Linked DNA regions of Homo sapiens: region 1 is linked to region 2. The links come from fine-mapping of genetic effects on gene expression. A gene starts in region 2. The other region holds a variant in brackets. All regions are shown on one strand. Distances are between the middles of the regions.

Region 1 (5,367 bases), 380 kb before region 2:
CTTTGTGTGGTTCTTACCACATGCCAAGACTTGCCATGCAGAAGAAGGATTAAGTTCATTCGTCACTCAAAGATCAGGACCAGTGTGATACTATACAGTAAGGCAGGTTTCAGATGAGTGTGGGAAAAATGTCCTAATCGCAGAGTGGCACTCTCCACGTCAGAAGCGGGGGCTGCTTGGGAAGAACAAGCTTCTCTCCCTGCTGGGAGGGCTGGCATGAGGCTGCAGGGCAGTTGTCAGGGGTCCCAGAGCCCAGAATGCAGTGGGAAGTTACGCTGATGCCCCAATGCCTTTGCCCGAGAGTTCAGGATTTCAGGTTAAATAATAAAGATGTGCAGATTGGACATGTTTTGTGAAGATCTGATTACCTGGGTTTTGATAATGACTTTACCTTTGAGAAGTACGTTCCATTTGGATAGCTTCACCCGGGATTCTCCTTCTAAAGTTGTTTCCGCCCCAGTATGTGGACAGTGAAATTGATCAATGCCTTCCCTATTCCCACAGGTCTCCCGGGTCCTCCTGGCCCCCCAGGTCCTTACGACATCATCAAAGGGGAGCCCGGGCTCCCTGGTCCTGAGGGCCCCCCAGGGCTGAAAGGGCTTCAGGGACTGCCAGGCCCGAAAGGCCAGCAAGGTGAGAAGGCTTGGCCTGTGCAGGGCGGTATGGGGAGCCCAGAGGGGCAGTGGTCAGAGTTCCTCCTCACCCATGTATCTAAAATAAGTTTCTGGGTAATGATTATACACACACATATGAATATGAGTTTCTTACCTCCCTTCAATGCATATCAAAACCTATGACATTTTTAAAGGGACCTAAAAAAAATCCAGAAGAAAACCCAGGAAAAGCTAGAGGAACACATAACAACACATCTGTGTTCAGTTAGAAAAACATGGGCTCAAAGAACCAGATCATTACCTTTCCCCCTCCTGCCTCCCGCTCCAGATGGGGGTGGCATGTAGCAATCTGGAATGGTAAAAATCGGTGCTCTCCATCCATGCCCCCAGGAGCGCTGCCTGATTGGCACTGTCTGTACAATTCTCTGTTATTTCCTGAAACCCTAACATAGTCTTCTGCTTATTTGAGTGAAACATCTCCTATTTGAAGAGCTACTGATAAGGAGTGGGTGGGAAGTAAAGGAGAATGAAAACATTTTAAAGTTGAAAGCATCAAAGAAAATTTAATGATACTTAAGAATAAGCTAGCCAGGCTCACTGGGTCACACCTATGTAATGCCGGCTTTTTGGGAGGCTGAGGTGGGAGGATCACTTGAGCCCAGGAGTTCAAGACCAGCCTGGGCAACATAGGGAGAGTCTGTCTCTACAAAATAATAATGATAAAATTAGCCAGGTGTGGTAGTGCATACCTGTAGTCCCAGCTACTCGAGAGGCTGAGGTAGGAGAATCGCTTGAGCCCGGGAGGTCGAGGCTGCAGTGAGCGGTGGTCACACCACTGCACTCCAGCCTGGGTGACAGAGCGAGACCCTGTCTCAAAAAAAAAAAAAAAAAAAAAAGAGAGAGAGAAAGAAAGAAGAAGAACAAGCTATGTACATGAAAACAAAAAAACTATCCATGTTGGTATATCTGTTGCCTAAAAATTGAGACCCCAGTATATGGCTGAGAGGGAAAGTTATCCAGTCTCTCATTCCCTCCACATCACCTGCCTTTTCCAAACCAATCTGCCAAACAGCAAGAAACCAGGGAGAACTCAGAACGAGGTGCCCAAACACACACCCCCTTATGAATATCCAGCTGCTTCTGCAAAGTCTGTACTCGACTTTGTGGGAAGCAACTCCTGGCTGTCCGAGAAAACGTTCTCATCTGCAGTGAGACTTTATGCTTGGCTCCTTGAACACTGAAAAGGACATTTAAGAAGGGAAGAAAGAGATACAGCTTACTGCCATACAGGATCATAAATTATTTTTCCTCTGCCTCAGGTGTTACAGGATTGGTGGGTATACCTGGACCTCCAGGTATTCCTGGGTTTGACGGTGCCCCTGGCCAGAAAGGAGAGATGGGACCTGCCGGGCCTACTGGTAGGTTGCGAAACTTCCAACGTAATTACCCTTGACCAGGATCTTTGGGATAGAAGGAGCAGAACCAGGCATGGGGAAACAGCAGAATGAAGTTGGATATATCACTTGACAGATTTCCGAAGAAGTCTGTTTCTTAGAAGAAATAGAATCAAATAGAAGAGCTGAAGAAGTGTTCTTTTTTCTGTGTAGAGACAGATATTGATCAAAGTGTACGTTTCCCAGATGTTGTTGAAAGGCAGCCAATAGTGGTGGCCCATGTGGTTTCCTAAGTGGGATGTGAGCTGCAGCTGTGAAAATTCTATTTCAGCAAAGGACAAGGGAAGTAGAAATGAAAATAATGCCAGCATTGGCCCAAAGGCATGGGATGAACTTGATCTGCTTCCTTAGGAGAAGGCACACTCGAGTGTCCGGTGAAGGCTATGATGCAAAAGGCTGAGGCCACTGACTAATTGAACAAAGAGCTCAGCCCAGCAGACCTGGGCACAGTTTGGCACGTGGCACAGTTAGAGAGGGGACAGAAGCAGGCCTTGCCTGCGAGGTCCCTTACTGCTCCATTTCCATACGCAGGCTTTGGGCTGCTATGGAGGAAGAAACACCTTAAGATGAGGTTGTTTAATAATTCTATGATAGTCCTCCCCAACAGGAGCCCCACGATTCCGTGTGAATGACATGCACAGAGTCACGTCATTCATTTATTTTCATTTATTCATATATCCATTTTCATATGTGTCATATATTCATTGAACTAAATTGTTCAAGCATCTGCTCTGCACCGAGAACTGTGCTTATAAAAATATCTTGAGGTGGCAGGTAAAAAGAAAAAGTTAAGACACCATGAAGGAGGTAGGCTGCTGTATTTAGTTAGCCATGCATTCTTTTTAGACTT[T/C]TTTGGTAACATGAATAGGTAGGATACTTTGTGGAAATATAAAATATTAAAAACTCTTTGGAGAAAATGATTTTGAAAGCCTTTAGGGGAGCGTGTTTGTAATTAGGGAAACTAATTTGTCTCCTATCTTCCAGGTCCAAGAGGATTTCCAGGTCCACCAGGCCCCGATGGGTTGCCAGGATCCATGGGGCCCCCAGGCACCCCATCTGTTGATCACGGCTTCCTTGTGACCAGGCATAGTCAAACAATAGATGACCCACAGTGTCCTTCTGGGACCAAAATTCTTTACCACGGGTACTCTTTGCTCTACGTGCAAGGCAATGAACGGGCCCATGGCCAGGACTTGGGTAAGAAGCCTGCAGATCCATGCATTCATTCAGTGTAGGTGTGTTGAGTGCCTTCGGTGTGCAGTGCTGGACTCGCCTCTGCTGCTGCAGTGAGGGCAGTAGCGAGTGAAACACTGCGCCATGAGGGCGGTAGCCAGTGAAAAAGCAGCCCGGCCCCATTTCCCTCCATTGATTACAAATAATCGGTTCAACAGCTGCTGTATTACTAATGGCAAGCCAAGAAATGTGGAGACTGAATCTTCGAAAATCTTTAAATTAATAAAACTTTAGATCTCATCTTCAAATTATCAAGTAGGATCAAGATTCCTGGAGTGCACTTAACAATTTGCATTGATGCGGCTTAACCATTGCTCTTTGTAAAAAAAAAGGTCCATGTTATCCTGTCTGAAATTCTCTACAGCTGCTGAGCTCTGCTCCTCTAGTTTAGATCAGCAGAAAGCTACATATCTGTCCTCATTATCTTAATCTGACCCAGATATCCTCCACCAAACTGTGTTTTAATTTTCTCTGCCTTTAACTTTTATCAGGGTTAGAATCAGCAAGCTGCTATAGAAAGAGCATCTGCATTTTCTGCAAAACTGTTGTGAAAGACATTGCCCAATTTGTTACTATCCATCGTATAACGAACCATGTGTTAAGTTCCTTCTAGAATTCAGCTTTAGGAAAAGGTTTCTTTGTGCTGGTAAACTGGTTTTGTTTCCTTTCATCAAAAATGTCCTACATAATCCTTTATACATTTCCATTTCAGTGATTATGTTGATTATATGTTTTTGCTTGTTGTCCAGCTGAAATCCACTTTACATAGAGATAGATTGTGAATTATAAAGGAAACATCTCACATTGTCTTCTTCCTTGTCTAGGCACGGCCGGCAGCTGCCTGCGCAAGTTCAGCACAATGCCCTTCCTGTTCTGCAATATTAACAACGTGTGCAACTTTGCATCACGAAATGACTACTCGTACTGGCTGTCCACCCCTGAGCCCATGCCCATGTCAATGGCACCCATCACGGGGGAAAACATAAGACCATTTATTAGTAGGTGAGTCGAGCATCTGTAGGAACAAATGCAAAATTGAAGAGGAAAAGTCTCTAGTCTGGACAAGCATATGTTTTCTATTTTTCTCCAAAACGTTGAATCCATTGCCATTTAGCTTATTATTTGTGATATTCGAGTTTTGTAATGGAAATCTACCATAAAAATTATTTGACATAAAAGTCAGTTGGCTGGGCACAGTGGCTCATGCCCGTAATCCCAACACTTTGGGAAGCCGAGGCGAGAGGGTTGCTTGAGCTCAGGAGTTCAAGACCAGCCTGGGCAAGATGACGAGACTTCATCTCCACAAAAAATACAAAAGTTAGCTGGGCGTGGTGGTGTGAGCCTGTGGTCCCAGCTACGAGGGAGGCTGAGGTGGGAGGATCACTTAAGCCTGGGATGTTGAGGCTGTAGTGAACTGAGACCACACCACTGCACTCCTGCCTGAGCAACAGAGTGAGAACCTGTCTCAAAAAGAAAAAAGAGTCAGCTATTCTCTTTTAAAATTGTGGTGCAAAACCATGGTGAGATAATGCCAGGCTTGCAGAGATAATTTATATTTTGCCTGACTCACTGTGGTGGTTGCCTTTCCTCCTGTGAGCAAGGTGATGCCACTCGATTCTTCAGCAAGCGTTGGAACAGTGTTGCTCAATCTTTCTTTTTAAAAAGTAACAGCTTCCCCAAGGAGCCTTTTAAGACATTGTTTTCTGAATCATCCCTGCCCCTATGAATTTTTTTTTTTTTTTTTGAGACGGAGTCTCGCTCTGTCACCCAGGCCGGACTGCGGACTGCAGTGGCGCAATCTCGGCTCACTGCAAGCTCCGCTTCCCGGGGTTCACGCCATTCTCCTGCCTCAGCCTCCCGAGTAGCTGGGACTACAGGCGCCCGCCACCGCGCCCGGCTAATTTTTTGTATTTTTAGTAGAGACGGGGTTTCACCTTGTTAGCCAGGATGGTCTCGATCTCCTGACCTCATGATCCACCCGCCTCGGCCTCCCAAAGTGCTGGGATTACAGGCGTGAGCCACCGCGCCCGGCCCCCTATGAATTTTTTTAAAAGTTATTTTTAATT
Region 2 (5,327 bases):
GTTGAAAAAGTATGGAAGAACAGTTGGAAAATCACAAGGTGTAGAACAAGCTTTAAATAAATAAATAGCTTATCTGGCAATAGAAAGGGGGAAAGAAAACAAGTTCCTCGGTTGAGGAAGAGGACTGGGATACTTCTAATTACAGAGTTTCTTACTGTTGGTTTGTTTCATGGGCTGACTCTCAATGAGAATTGAAATTGTATCATCCACATTTGTATTTGGAGGTTCTAACTGCAGAATTGCAATTAATTTCCAGTTTGCTGTAGGAAATTTATACTCTCTATGACAGAATACCACGGACATAGGTGATAATTCTTTAACCTTCTCTCTTTTGTCCCCAGTCTGGTAACTGAGGCAGTACATGGGGAAAGTGCTAACTGCCAATCCAGAGCTGCTGACACCTTAAAAACACTGGCCTTTAACACTAGGATGGCCCCAAGAAACAAGCAAACAGGAAAAGATGACACCTGCTAGCGTGTGACAGGCACAGCAAGTAAATGTTCAATACGGATATGAAAATGCAACTGCATAATAAAAGTCAACATGAAAAAGAAAAAGATTGCAAAATATACTTTCTCAGAAGAAACCATCACATGATGTTTAAAAGTGGTGGTTCCTTTAGCATTGTCTACTGATGGCTGGCAACATACAGGAACATAGAGGTGGCCCATTTACATCCTCATAAAAGTGGGATGTAAGTGATCACAAAGCCAATAAAACTACACCACATTTTCTTCAAGCACCAAGATAAGAATCCCTTCATCTTTCCTGACTAGACATATTGCTAGGCAACATTTGTGAACGTAAGAAAAGGTAACAAGATCTAAAAAGAACGCCGAAGCATAATGTTCATAAAGGTGGCGCCCCCAACACACACAATCATACACACATACCTATACACACACAATCACACAATCTATTATATAAACAAACACGCACACATGCACACATAGGTGCACAGACTTAAAATGGCATTTCTTGAGGTATTTTTTTTTAAGGTATGATTTAAAAATGGAAGATCAACTTTAAACACACCTTTTTGAGGCACACTGGGTGATATTTGCCACAATGATTATTCTTCCCAAATTCAGGCTACTGATCAATAATCCTAACTGTATACATGCTAAAAATAAAAACGCTATAATCTTTGTACTAGTCAGGGCTCTCTTGGCACATAAAATTAGCCAACACAATCTTCAAGTCACATGTTACAAAAACATATTAAAATATATATCACTCTTTCAAAAATTACACTTATTTTCTCTTAGATTAAGATTTTATTACTTTTAAGATACTTCTATGAATTATAGAGGACATCCAAAAGTAAACATCCGGGACTTAAAAACAATAACCAATATTATAAGATAAATTATTGCTGTAAATTATTTCATGAAGGCACAATTAAAAAAAAAATAAAATAAACAGCCAAAGCCTGTTTTGTTGAGTTTTCTTCGTTGCGCAGGATCGGGAGCTTGCTGGGATCTGAACTCAGGAAGCCCTCACCTCACCCTGACTTGGTCATTGAGGAGACGTAATTGCAGGGGTGCTTATTTGCTATAGGCTTTGAAAGTCACAAAAGCCCAGTAGATACATGAATTCGAAGCAGTTCTCCAAGGGCATCTCCAACTTGGCAGTCACCGCCCGCACCGCGCACACAGGTAGTGGACGCCCGCCCACCTGCCCGTCTGCTGGGCGCAGGGCGCTCCTGGGGTGGGGAGGGCGCTCCTGTGGGGGGAAAAGGGGCGCTCCTGCCTCGGAGGGGGAAAGGACGCCCCTGTGGAAGGAAGGGGGGGCTCTTGAAGCGGTGTGGTGAGAGGACGCTTCCGAGGAAGGAAGGGGGTGCTCCTGCAGCGGTGGGGGGAGAGGACGCCCCTGCGGAAGGAAGGCGGCGCTCCTGCGGGGGCTGGAGAGACGCCCGCGCGGTCTCCCGGCTCAGGGACCGCTGGCTCGCGGGTCCGCCCTCTCCCCGGCGCTATGGAAACCGCACTTTCTCCGCCTGCCGTCCCCGATCTCTTTCTCCTATTACCTCCCAAACGCGATTTCAACTTCCCGACAAGCTGACAAGTGAATGGCGCAGAGGACGCCCCGTAAAGCGCCCGCGAGCGGGTGGGACACAGGCGCCCCCTCCGCGCCCCTCTGTCCTCCACGGAAGGGCGCGCGCCGCTCTCGATCTGGAGCGCGGTGCTCGCGAACCCGCGGCCGCGGGCCCTGGAACCTCCCCGCGTTTCGCGGCTGCGGGGGGACGGAGATGCGGCCGGGAGACGGGGACGGGAAACGGGGGACGGGGATGGGGCGCGCCCACCCCGAGCGCGGGAGCGGCCGCCCTCGCCCAAAATGGGGACCCCGCGCCCCGAGAGCACGGCCCGGCTCGCCGCCCATGCTTCCACTGCAAGGCCGCAGCCCCCGCCGCCGATCCCGATCCCCCGCCCCGCCCAGCCGCGGCCCCGCCCGGCGCCCCCTCCCCGGCGGAAGCTCAAGCCCAATTAATTGAGTCCGAGGCGGGAGGGAAGGGCCCTGCGCGCCGTGGCCCGCCCCGCCCCTCTTCCGCGCCCCTTTTCCCGCCCTGGGTGGCATCTCCTCCGCCGGCATCCACAACAAGCCGCTGATTAATGAGGCCGGGGCCGCCCCACCCCGCCCGGCCGGGCCGGGGCCTTCGCGGGAGGGGGAGGGGACGGCGGGAAACGCGGCCCGGGGAGAAAGGGGGGCGGGGCGGGGGCGCGCGGCCCGCCCCCGCGAGCGCCGCGCCGATTGGCCGAGCGCGCCGTCCGTCGGGGGGCGCGGCGCCAATGCGAGGCAGCGGGGCGGGGCGGCCGCGCTGTGTGTGCCTGCGTAACGCCGAGTCACATGTTGTTTTGCTCTTCTTAGTTCAGTCACTCGGTGCGCGATGTGTTACTCACTGTGCGGCGGGGACCGCGACGAGCCCGGGTCGCCGTTGGCAGCAGCAGCAGCAACACCAGCAGCAGCAGCAGCCCCGGCGGCGGCGCGGACCCCGAGCGCCCGGGCGCACCCCGGCTTCCCGGAGCGCGACGCGGCGGCAGCAGCCCCGGTGCGGCCGCGCGCGCCTTAGGCTCGGCCCCGCGGCTCGGGGACCCCGACTCCCGGCCCAGCGAGCGCGTCCCCCGGCGCCGCCCGAGAGCCCGAGGAGGCAGCGGCCGCAGGCAGCCGGGGAGGGGGGCGGCCACCGCCCGCGCCGGGCATCCTCAGGAGCCCCAGAGCGCGGAGGGCGCGGCGCCGCCGAGCGGTGCTGGCCCCCGCGGGCCTCCCCGGACCTTCCCCACCGCCTGGGCCCGAGGGACGCGTGATCGGGCGGGCGGCCGGGCGCAAGGGTGGGAGGGAGCCGCCCCCGCCCGCGCCCCCTCCGCCCCTCGCCCCAACCCCTGGGCGCCGGGCCCGGGCCGCGCGGCCTGAAGCGCCCGCGATGGCGAGCCCGCCGCGGCACGGGCCGCCCGGGCCGGCGAGCGGAGACGGCCCCAACCTCAACAACAACAACAACAACAACAACCACAGCGTGCGCAAGTGCGGCTACCTGCGCAAGCAGAAGCATGGCCACAAGCGCTTCTTCGTGCTGCGCGGACCCGGCGCGGGCGGCGACGAGGCGACGGCGGGCGGGGGGTCGGCGCCGCAACCGCCGCGGCTCGAGTACTACGAGAGCGAGAAAAAGTGGCGGAGCAAGGCAGGCGCGCCGAAACGGGTGATCGCTCTCGACTGCTGCCTGAACATCAACAAGCGCGCCGACGCCAAGCACAAGTACCTGATCGCCCTCTACACCAAGGACGAGTACTTCGCCGTGGCCGCCGAGAACGAGCAGGAGCAGGAGGGCTGGTACCGCGCGCTCACCGACCTGGTCAGCGAGGGCCGCGCGGCCGCCGGAGACGCGCCCCCCGCCGCCGCGCCCGCCGCGTCCTGCAGCGCCTCCCTGCCCGGCGCCCTGGGCGGCTCTGCCGGCGCCGCCGGGGCCGAGGACAGCTACGGGCTGGTGGCTCCCGCCACGGCCGCCTACCGTGAGGTGTGGCAGGTGAACCTGAAGCCCAAGGGTCTGGGCCAGAGCAAGAACCTGACGGGGGTGTACCGTCTGTGCCTGTCTGCGCGCACCATCGGCTTCGTGAAGCTCAACTGCGAGCAGCCGTCGGTGACGCTGCAGCTCATGAACATCCGCCGCTGCGGCCACTCGGACAGCTTCTTCTTCATCGAGGTGGGCCGCTCGGCCGTCACAGGCCCCGGCGAGCTGTGGATGCAGGCGGACGACTCGGTGGTGGCGCAGAACATCCACGAGACCATCCTGGAGGCCATGAAGGCGCTCAAGGAGCTCTTCGAGTTCCGGCCGCGCAGTAAGAGCCAATCGTCGGGGTCGTCGGCCACGCACCCCATCAGCGTCCCCGGCGCGCGCCGCCACCACCACCTGGTCAACCTGCCCCCCAGCCAGACGGGCCTGGTGCGCCGCTCGCGCACCGACAGCCTGGCCGCCACCCCGCCGGCGGCCAAGTGCAGCTCGTGCCGGGTGCGCACCGCCAGCGAGGGCGACGGCGGCGCGGCGGCGGGAGCGGCGGCCGCGGGCGCCAGGCCGGTGTCGGTGGCTGGGAGCCCCCTGAGCCCCGGGCCGGTGCGCGCGCCCCTGAGCCGCTCGCACACCCTGAGCGGCGGCTGCGGCGGCCGCGGGAGCAAGGTGGCGCTGCTGCCGGCAGGGGGCGCGCTGCAACACAGCCGCTCCATGTCCATGCCCGTGGCGCACTCGCCGCCCGCCGCCACCAGCCCCGGCTCCCTGTCGTCCAGCAGCGGCCACGGCTCGGGCTCCTACCCGCCGCCGCCCGGCCCGCACCCGCCTCTGCCGCATCCGCTGCACCACGGCCCCGGCCAGCGGCCCTCCAGCGGCAGCGCCTCCGCCTCGGGCTCCCCCAGCGACCCCGGCTTCATGTCCCTGGACGAGTACGGCTCCAGCCCAGGCGACCTGCGCGCCTTCTGCAGCCACCGAAGCAACACGCCCGAGTCCATCGCGGAGACGCCCCCGGCCCGAGACGGCGGCGGCGGCGGTGAGTTCTACGGGTACATGACCATGGACAGGCCCCTGAGCCACTGTGGCCGCTCCTACCGCCGGGTCTCGGGGGACGCGGCCCAGGACCTGGACCGAGGGCTGCGCAAGAGGACCTACTCCCTGACCACGCCAGCCCGGCAGCGGCCGGTGCCCCAGCCCTCCTCTGCCTCGCTGGATGAATACACCCTGATGCGGGCCACCTTCTCGGGCAGCGCGGGCCGCCTCTGCCCGTCCTGCCCCGCGTCCTCTCCCAAGGTGGCCTACCACCCCTACCCAGAGGACTACGGAGACATCGAGA

The links. PIP is the estimated chance that this variant, and not a neighbour inherited with it, causes the effect.
Region 1: its variant is the best candidate, but not a certain one, in a credible set for the expression of IRS2 in whole blood (INTERVAL, PIP 0.58).

Annotation. Positions count from the first base shown.
Region 1 is chr13:110,160,128-110,165,494 of GRCh38, reverse strand. COL4A1 (collagen type IV alpha 1 chain) reads left to right here. Exons shown (of 52, transcript NM_001845.6): 46 at 505-633; 47 at 1,934-2,032; 48 at 3,053-3,265; 49 at 4,126-4,303. Among named protein-coding and RNA genes, the nearest start is that of LINC03082, 34 kb to the right of the region's middle. The variant T/C (reference allele first, on the strand shown) is at 2,919.
Region 2 is chr13:109,784,145-109,789,471 of GRCh38, reverse strand. It overlaps IRS2 (insulin receptor substrate 2), which reads left to right and starts at 2,889. Exons shown (of 2, transcript NM_003749.3): 1 at 2,889-5,327. The coding sequence starts at 3,419. LOC124903211 (WAS/WASL-interacting protein family member 1-like) reads right to left here and starts at 2,388. Exons shown (of 2, transcript XM_047430835.1): 1 at 2,027-2,388; 2 at 1-1,872. The coding sequence starts at 2,379. The coding sequence ends at 1,635. RefSeq lists silencers at 2,492-2,661, 2,682-2,911 and an enhancer at 3,753-4,382.